3 linked regions of the Homo sapiens genome follow. The protein of the gene in region 3 purifies or fractionates together with the protein of the main gene of each other region. This does not show direct contact. Each region holds a gene or a part of one and is shown on either strand. Other genes may lie near its edges.

The links.
Region 1: the proteins of STRN3 (region 3) and SLMAP purify together in Homo sapiens (affinity purification with mass spectrometry; 5 studies listed by BioGRID and IntAct, with this or other methods). This does not show direct contact.
Region 2: the proteins of STRN3 (region 3) and FGFR1OP2 purify together in Homo sapiens (affinity purification with mass spectrometry; 5 studies listed by BioGRID and IntAct, with this or other methods). This does not show direct contact.

Annotation. Positions count from the first base shown.
Region 1 is NC_000003.12:57,857,295-57,864,322, reverse strand, and holds part of SLMAP (sarcolemmal membrane-associated protein), read right to left. Parts: intron 6,591-7,028; coding exon 6,495-6,590; intron 6,236-6,494; coding exon 6,164-6,235; intron 3,625-6,163; coding exon 3,484-3,624; intron 2,375-3,483; coding exon 2,237-2,374; intron 1-2,236. UniProt on the Homo sapiens protein: Associates with the striatin-interacting phosphatase and kinase (STRIPAK) core complex, forming the extended (SIKE1:SLMAP)STRIPAK complex.
Region 2 is NC_000012.12:26,941,456-26,948,483, reverse strand, and holds part of FGFR1OP2 (FGFR1 oncogene partner 2), read right to left. Parts: intron 1-7,028. UniProt on the Homo sapiens protein: May be involved in wound healing pathway.
Region 3 is NC_000014.9:31,016,369-31,023,396, forward strand, and holds part of STRN3 (striatin-3), read right to left. Parts: intron 1-7,028. UniProt on the Homo sapiens protein: Calmodulin-binding scaffolding protein which is the center of the striatin-interacting phosphatase and kinase (STRIPAK) complexes.

The sequences.
Region 1 (7,028 bases), on a different chromosome or scaffold from region 3:
TGATTCTCCTGCCTCAGCCTCCCAAGTAGCTGGGATTACAGGCATGCGCCACCATACCCAGCTAATTTTGTATTTTTAGAAGAGACGGGGTTTCTCCATGTTGGTCAGGCTGGTCTCGAACGCCTGACCTCAGATGATCAGCCCACCTTGGCCTCCCAAAGTGCTGGGATTACAGGCATGAGCCACTGCGCCCGGCTAACCTGACATTTCTAAACCAGTAAAGATGATAAAGACAAAGGCTTGATGTCAAAAATTATCTGCATTGGGTTATTCCTCCATAACACCCAGGAGAGAGAAACTTGGAGGAAGCAAGTAGGCTCAGTACACACAGAGGTAAAGGGTCAATGTGGAAAAAAAAATCGTATTTTTAAAGAGGGAAGTAAGATTTTTCCCTAAAATTACTATCATTTCAATTTTGAAGTTCTATCATGTTAACATTCTGAAATTTTAAACAAAATTATTTAGTAACGAGATGACAGTACAATCACTATTCAAAAAGACCTCTCTGCCTATAGTTTGGATGTTCGTCCCCCAAGCCTCAATGTTGAAATTTGATCCTCAGTGTTGGAGATGGGGTCTAATGAGAGGTGTTTGGGTTATGGGAGCAGATCCCTCATGAATGGCTTGGTGCTGTCCTCATGGTAATGAGTGAATTCTCACTCTATTAGTCCTATGAAAGCTGGTTTTTAAAAAGAGCCTGGCACCTCTCCCAGACCCTCTCTCACCATGGAACACGTACCAGCTCCACTTTGCTTTCTGCCATCAGTGGAAGCAGCCTGAAGCTTCAGCCTGCAGAACTGTGAGCCAAATAAACCTCTTATCTTTATAAATTACCCAGGCTCAGCTATTCCTTTATAGCAACAAAAATGGACAATGACAATCTCCTTTTAACAAGACCAACTTTGAAAACTATCATAGGTTAACCAACGGAGGTATGCTCTGGTCTTCTCTAACAAACACATATCTTCTAGGCACTCAATCCATAGTTTGAATTAAACCAAGATGGACCTTCACAAACAGTTATAAGATTTTTTTTTTCCTCAGTTATAAGATTCTAAAGGACCAACTAGACATTACCCTATCATTACCCTATGATCTGATCTGTCCTTATCCTAGATGTCTCATAGATAGAGGGAATGGCAGCTAAAGCAGAGTTAACAGCATCCCTGAAAGCTAAAAGGGAGATCATTCCCAGATTCTCTCTGGGCTTGTTCCAGCACAGCACTAAATAGCTGGGCCCTGCCTTTTAGATGGCCTAATGATAAGCAGTTTTAGGTTTTAAAACATCTGAATATCATGGGTTTTGCTGATTCTCATCTACTTCCTGTTATATATTTTAGAAATGTCTATTGTGAAGCACTGACTACATATTCATCCAGAGGAACTATGTCAGCATTTACAGGCTTTCAATTATCTATAGTAATGGAGGTTGGGCTAAATGGAATACAGACACCTTATTTTCACTATAAATTTCAACTGTTACCAAATTTTTACATCAATAACTATTCAGCAATACCTAAAATCTTTTTTTATAGAAATCTTATTTAATATGTAGTACCACCTACATCCTGCTTTCATACTTTCAGCATAATTTAACACATTCAAGGAGACTATGCAAATCAATTCAAAATATCTATCTATACCAGTGGTTTTCAAACTGAATTTTTTTTTTTTTTTTTTTTTTGTGAGACGAAGTCTTGCTCTGTCGCCAGGCTGGAGTGCAGTGGTGCAATCTTGGCTCACTGCAACCTCTGCCTCCTGGGTTCAAGTGATTCTTCTGCCTTAGACTCCCAAGGAGCTGGGACTACAGGCATGTGTCACCACGCCCAGCTAATTTTTGTATTTTTAGTAGAGACGGGGTTTCACCATGTTGGCCAGGATGGTCTCAATCTCTTGACCTCATGATCTGCCCGCCTCGGCCTCCCAAAGTGCTGGGATTACAGGCGTGAGCCACTGCGCCTGGCCCAAACTGTTTTTTGTTTGTTTGTTTGTTTGTTTTTCCTTTGAGATGGAGTATCGCTCTGTCGCCCAGGCTGGAGTGCAGTGACGTGATCTCAGCTCGCTGCAACCTCCGTCTCCTGGGTTCAAGCAATTCTCCTACCTCAGCCTCCTGAGAAGCTGGGATTACAGGCGCCCGCCACCCCACGCCCAGCTAAAGCAATACCTAAAATCTTAAGCTATCTAGTGTGTTAGGGATTATTAGCTTAACATACTTTCAGGCAGAGTAAATACATACCTTTAATTTATCAGATAAATCTTTAATCTCATTAACTGCTCCATTATATTTGTTGGCTAATTCTCTTAATTCTTCCTGAGTCCTTTCATTCATTTCTTTCAGATGGGTACATTCATCTTCAGTATTACTCAGACTTCGCTGCGATTCAAGTTTACAGGCAATTTAATTAGAATAAGTGTATATTTGTTATTTAGAATTCCTTCTAAATGAAATTTATAAAAAGTATAATTCTATGGACTATTCTAAATCAACATCTGCCCTGGACTTTAAATAAAGCTGAGTCAAATAACATAAGAATTTCAATTCACACTAAAACAGAAAACATAACTAAGAATTAACAAAAACAACAAAAAAATAAAAGTGGAGGGAGAGCAGGGGCAGGAAAAGGATGCTGCCTTTATATAATTACATTTTTGAAAGGCCAATGGGTATGACTTTTAGCTGTGAAAATATTTTAAGCCTATCAATCCTTGAAAGCAAGTTTAATAATATCCAGCAATCAATTTAATAAAAAATTAAAAGACACTTAGTAACTTTCTTTATATATCAAATTAATCACACAACAGTGAATCAGGCACTATGGGATGAGGTAGCAATACAAACTATACCTGTAGTAAGGAAAGGTATGTTTACCATTTAGTTTCTGATGAGCATTTTAACTAATTCTAGTAATACATTATTTATGTGGTAATTTTGCAGTGGTTCAAAGAAAAGATCTATATTATGAATTAGAATTTTTTTCCCCAAAGCAATAAAAATTGCATTTTGATTGCTCCTCCAAGACCTAGAAAGGACCTTGGAGATGATTTCACCTTTGAACTTCCTAAATATATGACACAGCTAGTTTTCCTCTCTGCAGAGTGAATTAAAAAAGAACAAGTAGTGTAGACTCTTGGCCTTACACTGACCCCCCTCAAATAGAAGCAAAGCAAAACCAAGTGACAGGAAATCAATTCCCCAGCACATATCATGGTCTGCTGTATGGAGGGTGAATCCTAAGCAGAATGCAAACAATAAGATTCCCTGGTTACGCTTTTATTTCCTCAGCCATTGACTAGGGAGTAAGTACCAAAACTCACATGGAGAATTGCTGTCAATGAAAGCAGCGTAACTGTTCCTTCCCACCTGACAGACAGAAAGTATTTCCTAACTATATAATAATACCCAAGTTTAAAGTATCCTGGAATGCTTGAGATTTTTTTGAACACTCATAATACTATTTAGTATTTTTTTTTTGATTGAAATACCTCAACTTCTGAAAGTTTTCTAACCACTTCAATTTTCTCCTGAAGAACCCGCCTCAGGGACTCTTTGGCTGTTGTCTCATAGTTATGTTTATCCTCTTGTAATGCTATAAGTTCCTTTCGTAAACTATCTTCTGTTTGATTCTACAATAAAAGATATTTATAATTATAGACAAGTTATTTTTTAAAAGCATTTATTGTTTGAAAAAAATTAACACATTATGATATACTTTAAATTATATATTAAGGTACCTCCAAACATAAATGATTCTGGCCCTGTATTAACTAAAGATGTATTTACAAGTTGCATAAGTAAATTATGCCTTCACAAACTTACTAATTTCCACTTCCTATAGAAAAAAAAAGTTATAGGCAATTGAGAATTTCCCTAAAATATACAAAATTAGTTACTTTTATATTTGTCATATTTTCTGCAAGCCACCATATTCACATTTGTAGGCAAAAATAATCAATTACCTTCAAAGGCACCAAGCATTCTGAAACAATGGTTAAAACAAAAGGAATAAGAGTACCATGGGGGAAAAGCAGACTTCATGTCTGGGGCAGGAAAAGTACAAAATGAGCCTGAAACATCTTGTCTGAAATGACAGCATGAAGCTATCACTCTGAAGACATTTACACAGACCAAAGATGGGATAATTTGAGCATCAATAAGAAAAATAGGCTGGCCGTGGCACTTTGGGAGGCCGAGATGGGAGGATTGCGTGAGCCCAGGAGTTCAAGACCAGCCTGGGCAACATAGCAAGACCCTGTCTCTAAAACAAGAAAAACAACTGCACCAGATTTAAATACATCAAATATGTTTAAATCTAAGTGGAGTGAGAAAACACTTCATGGCCAGTCTTTGGTAGATGAAAAACCACCAATTCATTATTCTGAAATCTAATAAATAAGGGGAGAAAATCACTTATCTTGCTTTCCCCGTAGAAAACATACCTCAGGGTTATTTAAATTTTTTTATTCCAATACCTTTAGAGATACAAGTGGTTTTTGGTTACATGGATGAATTATGTAGTGGTGATGTCTGGGGTTTTAGTGCACTCATTACCTGAGTAGTGTATATTGTATTCAATAGGGAGTTTTTCATCCCTCACTCCCCTCTCACTTTCCCAACTTCTGAGTCTCCAATGTCCATTATAGCACTCTTTATGCCTTTACATACCTATAGCTTAGCTTCCACTTATAAATGAGAACATGTGGTATTTGGTTTTTGATGCCAAAGTTACAAAAAACAATGGCCATTGTTTTTCCTTTTTTCGTTTTTTTAGAGACAGGGTCTCTCTTTGTCACCAAGGCTGGAGCGCAGTTCTGCGATCATAACTCACTGTAATCACAAACTCCTGGGCTCAAGCGATCCTTCCACCTAAGCCTCCCGAGTAGCTAGGACTACAGGTTATGTACCACTATGCTAAGCAAATCTTTAATTTTTGGTAGATACTGGGTTTTGCCATGTTGCCCATACTGGTCTCAAACTGCCCCCGCTTTTTTTTTTTTTTTTTTTGAGACAGTCTCGCTCTGTCGCCCAGGCTGGAGTTCAGAGGTGCGATCTTGGCTCACTGCAACCTCCACCCCCACCGGGTTTAAGCAATTCTGTCTCAGCCTCTTGAGTAGCTTGGATTACAGGTACATGCCACCATGTCCAGCTAATTTTTGTACTTTTAGTAGAGACGGGGTTTCGCCATGTTGGCCACGCTGGTTTTGAACTCCTGACCTCAAGCAATCCGCCTGCCTTGGCCTCCCAAAGTGCTAGGATTACAGGCATGAGCCACTGTGTATGGAAGGAAACTTCTCTTTATAGAAGTAACCCAGCTAAATAAGTGAAGGAATAACAGAATTACATCATTATTTTTGTAACTTTTTTGTTGTTGTTGTTGTTGTTGAGACAGAGTTTCACTCTTGTTGCCCAGGCTACATTGCAATGGCACGATCTTGGCTCACTGCAACCTCTGCCTCCTGGGTTCAAGGGATTCTCCTGTCTCAGCCTTCTGAGTAGCTGGGATTACAGGCATGTGCCACCATGCCCGGCTAATTTTGTATTTTTAGTAGTGATGGGATTTCTCCATGTCGGTTGGACTGGTCTTGAACTCTCGAGCTCAGGTGATTCGCCCGCCTCATCCTCCCAAAGTGCTGGGATTATAGGTGTGAGCCACTGCGCCCAGCCTTATTTGTAACCGTAATGAAATAATGGATCTAGCCTGGGATCATCAATGATTGATAAAAATCTCAAAAAGAAAGACAACTAGACATTATGTTGTCCCTTGGTGGAAGAACACAATACCATCCATAAAGTGTTGTTGACAAAAAGAAAAACTGAACCTAAATCACATCAAATCTCTAGATGGAACTACTACTTTATGGAGTGGGAGGGGGAGCTAAAAAATGTTTAAATAACAATGCAGACTGAGGGAAATTCTAGAGGACAAATGACCCAGTTTTTTCAAGAAATATTAACTGCAATAGAAAAAAGACAGACTTGTACATGGGTATTCATTATGTAATTATTTTTATTTACATGGATGTCTGACGTTTCTCAGCACAAAAGATTTAAAAGAATTGTGGAAATGTATGAAGTTTTTAGCATATACTCAAAATGATAGTCAAAGAAATGATGTTACATAAAAAACTATGCATTTCATTTTACACATTTGAGGTTAATACCTACTTTGGAGCATGCCTGTAATTGGTTTCCCATAACTTCTAACCGTGATAAGAGTCTATCTTCATCTATTAAAGCCTATTGAAGAAAAATTAAATGTAAGTAAAACCCGAGTAATTATAAAGTCACATGTATATAAAAAAAGGTTGCTACTGACAACAAAAGATATAAAAGCGTAAAACTGACCAGCATCCACTGTAAAATGCTAAATCTTCAACAACTTGTTCATTAGTTAGGAAATAACTTTGTCTTTGTTTGCTACATTTTAGTTTATTTAACATGTATGGAATATTAAACTATGTTTAAATGTTTCTTAAATATAAAACAACTGGAATACCTGCCAACTGGTATCTGAAGCCTCTTGGGTGATGGCTAGTAGCCGCTGAAGCGTGGCTAACTTCTGTTCCAACATTTGTTCCCGATGTAAGGCCTCCTAGTATTACAAATCACAAAACAGATTCTAATAAGCTCATCATGATTCTTTTGAGGAGTGATCAATTTTCAGCATATTCTAAAATATTTTCATATTACATCCCACTTGATGTATTTTAAAGTAGTGAAACTTGATAGTACTTTGTAAAACATACAGCAGTCCCCGCTTATCTCTGGTTTCCCTTTCCACAGTTTCAGTTATAGTGCAGTACAAGATATTTTGAGAGAGACAGACAGAATGTTGACATTCACATAACTTTTATTCACATAACAGTATACTGTTGTAATTGTTCTATTTTATTATTATTGTTAATTTCTTACTATGCTTAATTTATAAGTCAAACTTTATCATAGGTATGTGTATATATAGGAAAAAACATAGTAGATATAGGGTTTGGTACTATCTGTGATTTCAGGCATCTACTGGGGGTCATGGAAC
Region 2 (7,028 bases), on a different chromosome or scaffold from region 3:
GCCAGTAAAAAGTAGAACAACACTTTCAAAATGCTGAAAGAACAGACCTATCAACCCAAAATTCTATATCCAGCAAAAATATGTTTCATATATGAAGGTGAAATAAAAGTCATTCTCAGCTGAAGAGAAAGAAGAACTTATTTCCAGTAGACTTATTATAAAGAATACTCTTCAGTTAGAAGCAAAGTGTTATCAGAAGGAAACTTAGAACATCAGGAACAAAGGAAGACCAACTGAAATTGTAAATATCTGGGTAATTATTTTCCTCTTAGTTCTTTTAAATGTCTAATGTTTAAAAACAAGAATTATAACATTTATCTAATGAGATTTTTAATTTATGCAGGCAAATATATAACTACAAGAAAAAGGGAGGAGGCTAAAAAGGCCTATACATTGATCAGATTTCTACATTTCACTTGAAGTTGTAAAAATATCAATTTTAAGTAGACTTAAAAATTTACATATATTGTAATTCCTAATAAATCCCTAAAATAACTGCACAGAGATAATAGTCAAAACTACAATAGATTAATTGAAATGAATTAAAAAGTGTTCAATAACCCAAAAGACAGAGAAAAGGCAAAACAAAGGAATATCAAAGGAACAAAAAGAAAACAAATGATAAGATGGCAGAACTAAATCCAAACATGTTAATAATTTCACTAAATATAAATGTCCTCGACATTTATATTTAGATAAGATTAAGACAGATGATCAGAATTTTAAAAGAGGACCCAACTATGCATTGTTTATATAAAATTCACTTTAAATATGATATGGGTAGGTTAAAAGTAAAAGGACAGGCCGGGCATAGTGGCTCACACCTGTAATCCCAGCACCTTAAGAGGCCAAAATCGGAGGATTGCTTGAGCCCAGGAATTCAAGACCAGCCTGGGCAACATGGCAAAACCCTGTCTCTACAAAAAATTTAAAAATTAGCTGGGTGTGGTGGCACATGCCTGTAGTCCCAGCTACTCGGAACGGTGAGGGCGCAGTCAACCCTGGCTGTGCCACTGCACTCCTGCCTGGGTGACAAAGTGTGACCCTGCCTCCAAAAAAAAAGTTAAAAGGATGGAAAAGAGGATATACTGTACAAATATTAGTCAAAAGAAAACCAGAGGGCTAATAAGAACATGAAAACATGCTCAACATAACTAGCCATCACTGAAATGCAATTCAAAACCACAATGAGATATACCTACTAGGATGGCTATAATAGAAAAGATAGTAAGTGTTGGCTAGGATATAAAGAATGTGAAATGGTATAGCCACTTTGGAAAAGTCTGACAGTTCTTCAAAAGGTTAAACATGTGATCCAACAATTCCACTCCTAGGTACATACCAGGAAAATGAAAGTATGTCAATGCAAAAAACTGTACATGAATGTTCACAGCAATATTATTCAACTGATAAATGAGTAAATATGATGTGTTCATACAGTGGAATATCTGGCAAAAAAAAAAAAGTAGGGGGGAATGATGCCCTGAAACAGGCTACAACATGGATGAAAACTGAAAAAATTATGCTCAGTGAAAGAAGTCAGTCACAAAGACAATGTATCACGCCATTTATATAGTGTCCAAAAGAGGCAAATCCACAGAGGCTGAAAGTAGATTAGTGGATGTCTAGGACTGAGGGATTAGGAAAAGGAAGGAGGAATGGGAAGTGACTGTTAATGAACATACGGTTTCTTTTTGCGCGGGAAAAATGTTCTAAAATCAATTTTGTTGATGGTTACACAACTCTGAATATACTGAAAACCCTAAAAGTGTACACTTTAAATAGGTGAATAGTATGGTATGTGAATTACATATCTCAATAAAGGTGTTATATTTAAGAAAAGAGCTAGAGTGGCTATATAATATCAGACAAGGTCAGGCGCAGTGGCCCACGCCCATATAATCCCAGCACTTTGGGAGGCCAAGGCTGGCAGATCATGAAGCCAGGGGTTCCAGAACAGCCTGGGAAACATGGCCAAACCCCACCTCTACTAAAAATACAAAAAATTAACCGGGCGTGGTGGTACACACCTGCAGTCGCAGCTAGCTGGGAGGTGGAGGTAGGAGGATCACCTAAGCCCAGGAGGTTGAGGCTGCAGTGAGCCACAATCACGCCACTAAACTTTAGCCTGGGCAACAAAGTGAGACTTGCCTCAAAAAATAAATAAATATCAGACAAAGTAAACTTCAGAGAAAAGAAAATTACCAGGGACAGAGGAACATTACATGATGATAAAATGCCCAATCACCAAGAAGACATAAGCATCCTAAATGTATATACAACTATAATTAAAGAGCTTCAAAATACAAATGCACTAACTCAAACAACTGAAGGGATATATAGGCATATCCACCCTTACTGCTGAAAAATTAAACATTCCTTTCTCAGTAACTGGCAGACTTTGTACACAAAAATCAGCAATATAGGCAAAATGAACAGCATCCACTAACTGGCTTGAATTGATATTTATGAAATGCTACAACCAACAACAGCAGAGTACACATTCTTTTTAAGTGCTCAAGATATTCATGAGGATAGATCACATCCTGGATCACAAAACAAACCTTAACAAATTTAAGAGAACTGTAATCATACAAATTATGCTTTTTTTTTTTTTTTTTTGAGACGGAGTTTCACTCTTGTTGCCCAGGCTGGAGTGCGATGGCACATTCTCGGCTCACTGCAACCTCTGCCTCCTGGGTTCAAGCGGTTCTCCTGCCTCAGCCTCCCGAGTGGCTGGGATTACAGGCTCATGCCACCATGTCCGGCTAATTTTTGTATTTTTAGTAGAGATGCGGTTTCACCACGTTGGCCAGGCTGGTCCTGAACGCCTGACCTCAGGTGATCTGCCCGCCTAGGCCTCCCAAAGTGCTGGTATTACAGGCGTGAGCCACCACGCCTAGCCAGTACAAATTATGCTCTCTGATTATAATGAAATTAAACTAAAGTAAGTAATTAAGAGATAACAAGAAAAATCTCCAAACATCTGGAAGTTAAACAATGTACTTCTATATAATAAGTCAAAAAGGAAGTTTCTGGAAATTAGAAGATACTTTGATCTAAATAAACATGAAAATACAAAATATCAAAAATTTTGGCATGTATGTAAAACTCTACTTTGAAGCAAATTTATAGCATTAAATGTTTATATTAGAAAATTAGAAAGATCTCAAATCAATTATGTAAGCCTCAACCTTTAGGAACCTGGAGAAGAAGAGCAAAATAAACCTAAAGTAAATAGAAAGAAATAATAAAGAGTAGAAATCAACGAAATTGAGAACAAGAAAGCAACAGAGAAAACCTAATGAAATAAAAAGCCAGTCCTTGGAAAAAAATAAAAATTGAAAAACCTCCTGAAAAATTAACCAAGAAAAAAAGTCAGCAGACATAAATTACTAATGGAAAGAAGGGATATCAGGAAAGATGAGACATCACTACAGACCTCTAATTCCTTAAAAGGATAAGTGAACACAATAATAAATTCCATACACATGAATTGGATAATTTAAATGAAATGGACTAATTCCTCAAAAAACACAAACTACATAAAGTCACACAAGATGAAACAGACAACTATGAATAATCCTATTATAATTATTTTAAGAAACTGAATTTGTAATTAGAAATCTTCTGCAAAAAATCTCCAGACCTGGATGGCTTCAAGGACAAATTCTATCACACATTTAAAGAAGAAATAACACCAATTATTATACAATCTCTTAAAAAAATAATAGAAAAGGAAATACTTGTAATTTTAATCTCATAAACTGATGTCAGTATTACTGATACCAAAACCAAAGAGAATACAAGAAAACCACAGACTAATATCCTTCATTAACATAAATAAAAAATCCTTAAGGAAATATTAGTAACTCAAATTCAGCAACTCATAATGAGAGTAATATACCCTGACCAATGGGAGTTTATCCCAGATTCAAGGCTGTCTCCAATGTAATCCACTGAAGAAGAAAATCACTTATGCATACCAACTGGCATATTATTAAAAAATTCCGCATACTTTCATAATAAAAATTTTCTGCAAGCTAGAAGAGGATTTTTTTAAACTGAGAAAGGGCATTTTCAGAAAACTTACAGCAAACGTCATACTTCATAATGAATGACTGACTGCTTTCCCAATAAAATTAGGAACAAGGGAAGGATGTCTGCAGTCACCAGTCCTGTTCAATACATTGGTGTAATAAGGCTAGGAAGGGGGGAAAAACCATACAGGCTGGAAAAGAAGAAATAAAACGGCCCCTTTTCACAACCAACATTGTTGTCTATGTAGAAAACCCCAAAGAATCCAAAAAAGAACTCCTAAAACTACTACATGATTTTAGCAATGTCACAGGATACAAGCATAAGAATCAACTGTTTTTCTATATACTGGCAACAAACAAATGGAAACCAAAACTTTTTTTTTTAAAACACACATTTACAATAGCAAAACAAAACAAAACAACAACAACAAAAAAACACAAAAAACAAACCCTGAGATTCCTGGGCACAAATTAAAACATATGCAAAATTTGTTTGCTGATAACTACAAAATGCTAATGAAAGAAACTAAAGAGGATCTAAAAGAATGGAGAAACATACTGTGTTCATGGACTGGAAGACTCAACATAGTAGGGAAGTTTTCTTTTTCTTTTTTTTGAGACAGAGTCTTAGTCTGTCGCCCAGGCTGCTGGAGTGCAGCGGTACGATCTTGGCTCACTGGAACCTCCGCCTCCTGGGTTCAAGCGATTCTCTTGCCTCAGCCTCCAGAGTAGCTGAGATTACAAGCGTGCGCCACCACGCCCAGCTAATTTTTGTATTTTTAGTAGAGATGGGGTTTCGTCATGTTGGCCAGGATGGACTCGAACTCCTGACCTCAAGTGATCCTCCTGCCTTGACTTCCCAAAGTGCTGGGATTACAGGTGTGAGCCACTGCACCCAGCCGAAATGTCAAGTTTTCTGTAACTGTTGTACAAACAGTGCAATTTCCAGTCAAAGTCCCAGCAAGATTTTTTTAGAGAAATTGACAAGCTAATTCTAAAATTAGCTTGGAAATGCAAAGAAACTAGATAACAACAAAACAACTATGAAAACAAAAAAAGTTGAAGAAACTATTTGTTTTCAGTTTTTTTCACACTACCAAAGTTTAAGACTTACTATAAAGCTACTTCAATCAAGGTGGCATAGAGCTGATAGAAACAGAAAAGGTTTAGAGACAGGGCCATACAAAAATGGCCAATGGATTTTTGAAAAAGGTGCAAAGGCAAGTCAAAGGAGAAAGGTTGGCTTTTTTCAACAAATGGTGTTGGAAGAACTGGACATCTATATGCCAAAAGTTTAATCCCAACATAATTCCTACACTTAATACAAAAATTAACTCAAAATGGACCATAAGTCTAAATATAAAATTAAAAACAATAACACTTTCAGGAAAAAAATAAGAGAAAATCTTTGTGACCTGGGGTTAGGCAAAGGTTTTTGTAAACATGATACTAAAAGCATGATTCATAAAAGAAAAATTTGATAAACTGGACCTCATCAAAATCACAAACTTTTGCTCTGGGAAAGACACTGTTTAGAGAGTTTGAAAAGACAAGCTACAGGCTGGGAGAAAATATTTCAAATCACTTATCCAACTAAGGACTTGTATCTAGAATACAAAAAAGTCTCTCAAAACAATAAGAAAATAACCCAAATAAAAATGAATAAAAGACTTTACTAGTGAACCAAAAAGATATGGACAAATAAGAAACATGAAAAGATGTTCAACATCATTAGCCATTAGAGAAATGCAATTAGAACCATCATGAAACCTGTCCTCTTAAAATGACTATCTATTTCTGCATCAATACCACATTGCCTCAAATGTAACAGCTGTAAAATAAACTCTCCCTATCTAATATGTATAAGTCACTGTTTTCTTCTTTAAAATTGCTTCACCTATTTGCCTTCTCTCTAACCTAATTCTATCCAAATGGATCTCTAGAGTACCCTAGAGGAAAATCAAACTGTTACGTAATAATTTTAATTAATTCAAACTGTTGGTAGCTTTCTGAATCTGAGCAATAACTAACTACCTTATACTGTCATTTGGGCAAGAGGACAAGTGTTATTCCCACTTTACCAATGAGAAAATAGACCCAGGAATTCCAAATCTAAAAAGCTGAGTGGCTCACGCCTGTAATCCCAGCACTTTGGGAGGCCAAGGCGGGTGGATCACGAGGTCAGGAGATCGAGACCAGCCTGACCAACATGGTGAAACCCTGTCTGTACTAAAAATGCAAAAACTAGCTGGGTGTGGTGGCGCACGCCTGTAATCCCAGCTACTCTGGAGGCTGAGGCAGGAGAACTGCTTGAGCCCGGAAGGTGGAGGATGCAGTGAGCCGAGATCGCACCATTGCACTCCAGCCTGGGCGACAGAGCAAGATTCCATCACAAACAAACAAACAAACCAACAAAGCTGAATGACAGCACCACAAAGCAAGGAAAGAGCCAAACTAGTACCAAAAATAGAATTTCTGATCCCCAGTCTAGTGTCCTATTCCTAAGCCACACTGGATTCCCAGGGTCCTGTTTGCTTTTTACCTGTATAGAAATAATCTCAATCTCATCAGGTGGAAAACGAAAAAAAGTAAGTTCTCTGACCCTACCCAACACATGGAACATCCAAGATATTTTTTAAAATTTTCAAGCCAGCCATAGAAAAGAAATGGGAATGTATATGAAGACAGATTTTAAAGAATAAAAAAATTTCAAATATTTTCCAGACATAACAGCCTAGCAACCATTTTAATTAGGTGTCACAGTTAATTACAAGATCAATGAATGTTTACTGATTGGCTTTTTAAAGTTGTAATTAATATCCACTTTATGAAAAACACTCTCTCCTCTCCAGATTGCATAATGAAATACTACTATCAAAATCAACTACATTTAAAATTTGTTAACTATAAAAACCTACCTATTCAGGGAAAGGAATTATAAGCAGCAGGTAGCTCAAAGCATAATTTTTTTTAGCATTTCAGAAACAC
Region 3 (7,028 bases):
AAAAGAAATAATCAACCCATAGAAAAGACAAGGAGAAGCCTTAAATACACTGCTACTAAGTGAAAAGGCTACATATTATACGATTCAAACTAAGGCAACCCTCTGTATCCAAGGGTTCCCCATTCACAGATTCAAACAATGGCAAGGCAAAAATATTCCAGAAAAATAATAAAAATATATATATATATATTTTGAGACAGAGTCTCGCTCTGTCGCCCAGGCTAGAGTGCAGTGGCGCGATCTCGACTCACTACAACCTCCGCCTCCCGGGTTAAAGCGATTCTCCTGCCCTCAGCTTCCCAAGTAGCTGGGATTACAGGCACGTGCCAGCACACCTGGCTAACTTTTATATTTTTAGTAGAAACGGCGTTTCACCATATTGGCCAGGCTGGTCTCAAACTCCTGACCTTGTGATCCACCCGCTTTGGCCTCCCAAAGTGCTGGGATTACAGTCATGAGCCACTGCGCCCAGCCAAAAAATAATTTTTAAAAATTATAGCAACTAGCCAGGTGCAGTAGCTGACACCTGTAATCCTAGCACTTTGGGAGGCCAAGGATGGCAGATAGCTTGAGCCCAGAAGCTCAAAACCAGCCTCAGCAACTTAGCAAAACTCTGTCTCTAGAAAAAATACAAAAATTAGCCAGGTGTGGTGGCGGGTGCCTGTAGTCCTAGCTACTCAGGAGGCTGAGGTGGGAGGATCACCTGAACCCAGAGATCAAGGCTGCAGTGAGCAGTGATTGTTTTACTGCACTCCAGCCTGGGTGACAGACTGAGACCCTGTCTCAAATAAAAAGTTTTAAAAAGTGTAACAACTATTTACATAGCATTTAGATTATATAAGTAATCTAGGCCGGGCGCAGTGGCTCACGCCTGTAATCCCAGCACTTTGGGAGGCCAAGGCAGGCAAATCACAAGGTCAGGAGATCGAGACCATCCTGGCTAACAAGGTGAAACCCCGTCTCTACTAAAAATACAAAAAATTAGCCGGGCGTGGTGGCGGGTGCCTGTAGTCCCACCTACTAGGGAGGCTGAGGCAGGAGAATGGCGTGAACCCAGGAGGCAGAGCTTGCAGTGAGCCGAGATCGCGCCACTGCACTCCACCCTGGGCGACGCAGCGAGACTCCGTCTCAAAAAAAAAAAAAAAGTAATCTAGAGATTTAAAATATACAGGAAGATGTGCATAAGTTACAAACTCATTGTATTGAGGGACTTGAGCATCTGAGGATTTTGTATCCTGGAGGAGAACCCCTGGAACAAATTTCCCCCAAGGATACCATGGGAAGGTATATGAATGTATTCTGGAAAAGGCAAAACTTTGGGGTAGGAGACTACTTGTACTTTCTGCTAAATTTTGCTGTGAACCTAAATTGTCTTATGAGGGGCAGTGAGTGTATACACACAAAAGCGAGCATACACAGTTATTTAGGCTGCGCACGGTGGCTCACACCTGAAATCCCAGCACTTTGGGAGGCCAAGGCGGGTGATCACTTGAGGTCAGGAGTTCAAGACCAGCCTGGCCAACATGGTGAAACCCCGTATCTACTAAAAATACAAAATAATTAGCTGGGCATGGTGGTGCATGCCTGTAATCCCAGCTACTCAAGGGGCTGAGGCAGGAGAATTGCTTGAACCTGGGAGGCGGAGGTTACAGTGAGCCGGGATTGCGCCCACTGCACTCCAGCCTGGGCAACAAAATGAAACCCTGCCTCAATTTAAAAAAAAAAAAAAAGGAAATTAATTTAAATAAATTTAAAACCATTTTGTTAAAAAAAAAAAACCTTAATAAAAATATATTTCAGGTCATGGGTAAAGAGTCTCTGTAGTCATGGCAACAGCCGAGGCAGGCTGCCTGCATACCAGCTACCAGTGATGGGGAGAAGCTGCCAGTCTACATCAGCCTGGGCCATAGTAAGCTGCTGCCACGGGGCCAGCAGGGTGGGCACCATGTTGCATTCATCTCTGTACCCCCAGCATCTAGCAGTGTTGGCATGTAGTGGGCACTCAAAGAAATGTGTGTTGAATGAACAATACCTGTGACAAGCAAGCGAACTTTATTCTTTCTCGACCCTTGTTCCTATGACACACCTCCTCCTGACTGTCACCGTCACTCCTTCAGAGCAGAGCTTCTCTAGGGAACTTGGATGCGAAACAACTATGGTAAAGGACATCCTGGCTGAAGAGGGACTGCACTTTGATGAGTTGAACAAGCTGTGGGTGTTGGACTCAGAGGTTACCCAGCAGACCACAGAGCTCAAAGAAGAGTGCAAGAACTTTGCGGACAAAACTGGCCAGTTTCAGAAAACAGTTGGTGGTTTAATTGAGCTTGTTGATAAACTTGCAAAAAAAGCGTAAAATGCGAAGATGAGGGCCATGGTGCTCCGAACTTGCTCAAATCAATAGCAAAGCAGAGAGAAGCTCAACAACTTCAGAACTCAGTAACTTCAAGCACTAATAGAATAAAAGAAAATTTAGGCAGGGCATAGTGGCTCACACCTGTAATCCCAGCATTTTGGGAGGCCAGGGTGGGCAGATCACCTGAGGTCGGGAGTTTGAGACCAGACTGGCCAATATGGTGAAACCCCATCCCTACTAAAATTCAAAAAATTAGTCGGGCATGGTGGCACACCTATAATCCCAGCTACTCTGGAGGCTGAGGCATGCCAGGCATAGTGGCTCATGCCTTTAATCCCAGCACTCCTGAGATGCCAAGGTAGGAGGACTACTTGAGGCCATGATCTCAAGACCAGCCTAGACAACATAGAAAGACCCTGTCTCTACTAAAAAAAAAATTAGCCAGGCGTGGTAGCACGTGCCTATAGTCCAAGCTATTTGGGAGGCTGAAGTGGGAGGACTATTTGAACCCAAGAGTTTTGAGGCTGCAGTGAGCTACGATCGCACCACTGCATTCCAGCCTGTGCAACATAGTGAGACCCTGTCTCTTAAAAATAAATAAAATAATAGAAAATAATAATTTGGAATGGACAATGAATGGATAGAAGTACAGGTAAAACAAGACTGATCATGAGTCGTTGCTGTTTAAGATGAGTGACACGTTTGTGGGAGGTCACAATACTATATTATTTTCTTACATGTTTGAAACTTTTCATAAAAAAATTAAAGGAGGGTTATATATAATACAATTGTCTTTATGATAAAAAGGATAAACTGTTAAGAGGGGCAATGGATGAAACAAACCTGTCAGGAGATTATCTCAAAGAATTCTGGCAGGAGGAGTACTCTGAACTAAGGCAGTATTAGTACAGAAACAAAAAGCACAGATTGAATCAGTTACTTCCTTAGATCAGCAGTCAGGCTTCATGGGCATTCTAAGCAAAATTTTCTTACCTTTTTTGAAAAAAAACTAGAAGAGGCTCCACAGCATTCATAATATATGCAAAGGGGACTATACAATCCCCCAAAAAATCAAGCATCAGTGAATTAGAATATACTTTAGGATACTGATGTTACCTATATTACTTAGCCTTTTGAATCATTATAGTCCAGTTCACTCATTTTCTTTTTTTTTTTTTTCTTTTTTAGATACAGGGTCTCACTGTTGCCCAGGCTGGTCTCCAACTCCTGGGCTCAAGTGATCCTCCCATTTCAACCTCCCAAAGCGCTGGGATTACAAGCGTGAGACACCACACCTGGCCAGTTCACAGTTTAAATGAAGCTCTTTCCTACTTTAGAACTTCTGCTAAATGCTGTAGCTTCCAACTGGCATGTTCTTTGTACAATTAGGTATTCCCGATACTTCAGATCTAGAAGTATACATTTAGGAACTTTATGAGAATTAAATGTACTGAAGAACCAAAAATAATGTCAACCATATAGAAAGTGTTCAATAGGTCAGGCGCAGTGGCTCATGCCTGTAATCCTAGCACTTTGGGAGGCCAAGGCAGGCGGATTACTTGAGGTCAGGAGTTCAAGACCAGCCTGGCCAACATGGTGAAACTCCATCTCTACAAAAAATACAAAAATTAGCTGGGCGTGTTGGTGGGTGCTTGTAATTCCAGCTACTCAGAAGACTGAGGCATGAGAACTGCCTGAACCCAGGAAGTGGAGGTTGCAGTGAGTTGAGATAGCACCACTGTACTCCAGCCTGAGTGACAGAGCGAAAACTGTCTCTAAAAAAAAAAAAAGAAAGTGCTCAATAAATATTAGGTATTATCTGAAACTCCATTACATATACAGGTTTCCTATCACCATTTATTCTCTCAGCATTCTGCTAATTTGTTGTAACATTTTATTGGCCAGGCATGATGGCTCATGCCTGTAATCCCAATACTTGGACTTTGGGAGGATGAGGTGGGAGAATCATTTGAGCCCAGGAGTTCAAGACCAGCCTGGGCAACAAACTGAGAACCCACCTGAACTAAAAATAAAAACAGCTTGGTGTGATAGTCCATGTCTGTAGTCCCACCTACTCGGGAGGCTGCAGCAGGAGGATCAGTTGAGCTCGGGAGCCTGAGGCTACAGTAAGCCATGTTGGCACCACTGCACTCCAGCCTCGGCAACAGAGTAGGACGCTCTCTTGAAAAAAAAAAAAATTATTTCTAGAGTATAAGCTCCCTGAGGACAAAGTCTGTGTCTCATACATCATTATACACCCAGGATCTAGCACAAAATCGCACTCAAATATCACCAAATAATCATGCTGGAATCAATAAAACTCACAGGCCATACGCAGGGGGAAGGTTCAATGACCTCTATAGTACTAGCGATGGGGAGGATAGTGTTAACTTTAATGTGGCAAGGAATAAAGAATGAGCAAGTGTGTTTTGTCAAGGGAAAGAGGCAGGCACTTGAGATTAACTGAATGGATGTATTGAATTTGAGGTAGAAAAACTAAACGGAAGTTAGAAATACAAGGGACATCTGGACGCCAAAAATCTAGTAGTGGTTAAGAACATGGCCTCTACAGGCAGTCTAAGTTTAAATCCCAGTTCTACTGCCTCCTAGTTGCATAGATTACTTAACCTTTGGGCCTCGATATGCCAGTGTCAGAAAAAATAAAAAAAAGACACCAATTATACCTGTATCAACCTCACTGAGTTGTTTTGAGAATTAAATGAATACTGAATGAATTAAATGAATACTGAAATACTGAAGCACTGAAATAACAATTAGGAAAGAGTAAATAAATGCTAGGTATTATTAAGATGGTACATGGTAGCTAAAAATCTGATTCTGAATATACAGTGAGAACATAAAATAGAACCAGAACCCCACATAATAACAACTGGGAACAAAAGAAAGAAAACATATGAAGAAAAGTGATAAGTGGATGACAGGAAAAACAGAGCGGAAGCAAAAGAAAACAGTTTTGAAGGATTTGTTAACAACAGAGTGTTGGTTAAGTACATACGGTTTATAAGGCCAAAGGATTTGGCAATTTGAAGGTCAATCATGAACAGAAAACATAGTGTTCTACGAAGTGTTTAGAAGGGAGGAGAGAAGAAAGCGAAAAGGCAGACTACAGAGTGGGGTTAATGGGTAGTGGAGGAGCATAAAGAGAATTCTAGATCAGTGGTCCCTAAACTTCATTTCAAGGGCTTCAAAAAGAAACAGGGAATCTGACACAAGGTAGTGGACTCCCTTAATACTATCAATAAAATTTTTTTAACTATTATCACCATCATCTGAAAAAGGAAATGCCTAACAGTAAAAATGTATGAAGGCTAAAAATCCCAGAACAAAGGGAACACCTTTATGAAAAATCACTGTCGGCCGGGCGCGGTGGTTCACGCCTGTAATCCCAGCACTTTGGGAGGCCAAGGTGTGCAGATCACGAGGTCAGGAGATCAAGACCATCCTGGCTAACACGGTGAAACCCCATTTCTACTAAAAATACAAAAAAATTAGCTGGGCGTGGTGGCAGGCACCTGTAGTCCCAGCTACTGGGGAGGCTGAGGCAGGAGAATGCCGTGAACCTGGGAGGCAGAGCTTGCAGTGAGCCAAGATGGTGCCACTGCACTCCAGCCTGGGCGACAGTAGAGCGAGACTCCATCTCAAAAAAAAAAAAAAAGAACATAAACTCTTTGACTACATTTTCTTGTATTAGCTATGTCATATTTTTACACTTGGCAAACAAGCATTTTGTATATACCCAAAATCCACTTACTACATACAAACTATAAAGAAAAATATAAGGACACATTAGCAATATATATAAACTATGCCTTGCAGCAGCATCACAGGCGCTCAATAAAACTTTATTGAAATGTACTCAAGTGGTGTGGGCCACGCAATACTAGATGAAGAATTACAAGTCAGATTCCACTCTATAAAAAAGAGCTAAGACAGTATAACATAATGGTTACAAGAGTGGTAACATGACTACAGGCTTTGGAATCAGACAGACTTGGGTTCAAATCTCAGCTGCAATACTTTATGGCTAGGTGACCTTGGCAAAATGATTTAACCTACCTAAATTTGTCTCCTCACCTGTAAAACAGGAATACTCACCTCATGAGGTTATAGTGCTGATTAAATGGCAGTTTCTAACTTTTAGAAGTCGTAACATGATAGATGTTGCTGCTTAAAGATCCTTAAGTTAGTAGGAGATATTTTGCTTAGACTTACTTGATTTCTTCATTTTTAAGGGGGGAATCTCCTGAATTTTCCATTTTCAGGGTTTTCAAAAGCTGGTCTGGAATAGTAATTTGCAAATCCTAGTGTCTTTTCCATGACAAGATTTTAATGAATCTACTATGAAATTACAAAAAAGAAAAGTGTAGTGTAGTAATTTTTCTCTTTAACAGGCACTACTGTGAAGAAAGAATCACTTGTAGAACTCTAAAAAATATGCAGGCCTCTTATCCTCTGGAGATCTGGATTGATCTAGGGCTTGAAGAAAATGGACTGTCTGTGGAATTTTGGTAATTCATGTTATATAAAAGTTAAGAAACCACTGTCCTATGACCTTACTAACAATGCTTTACCTGAGTCTAAGGTAAGGAAGAATCAGAGACAGAAGAGCTTTAAGATGTGATCCTTTAGTTTGGTTCCAAGTTTCTAAGACAGA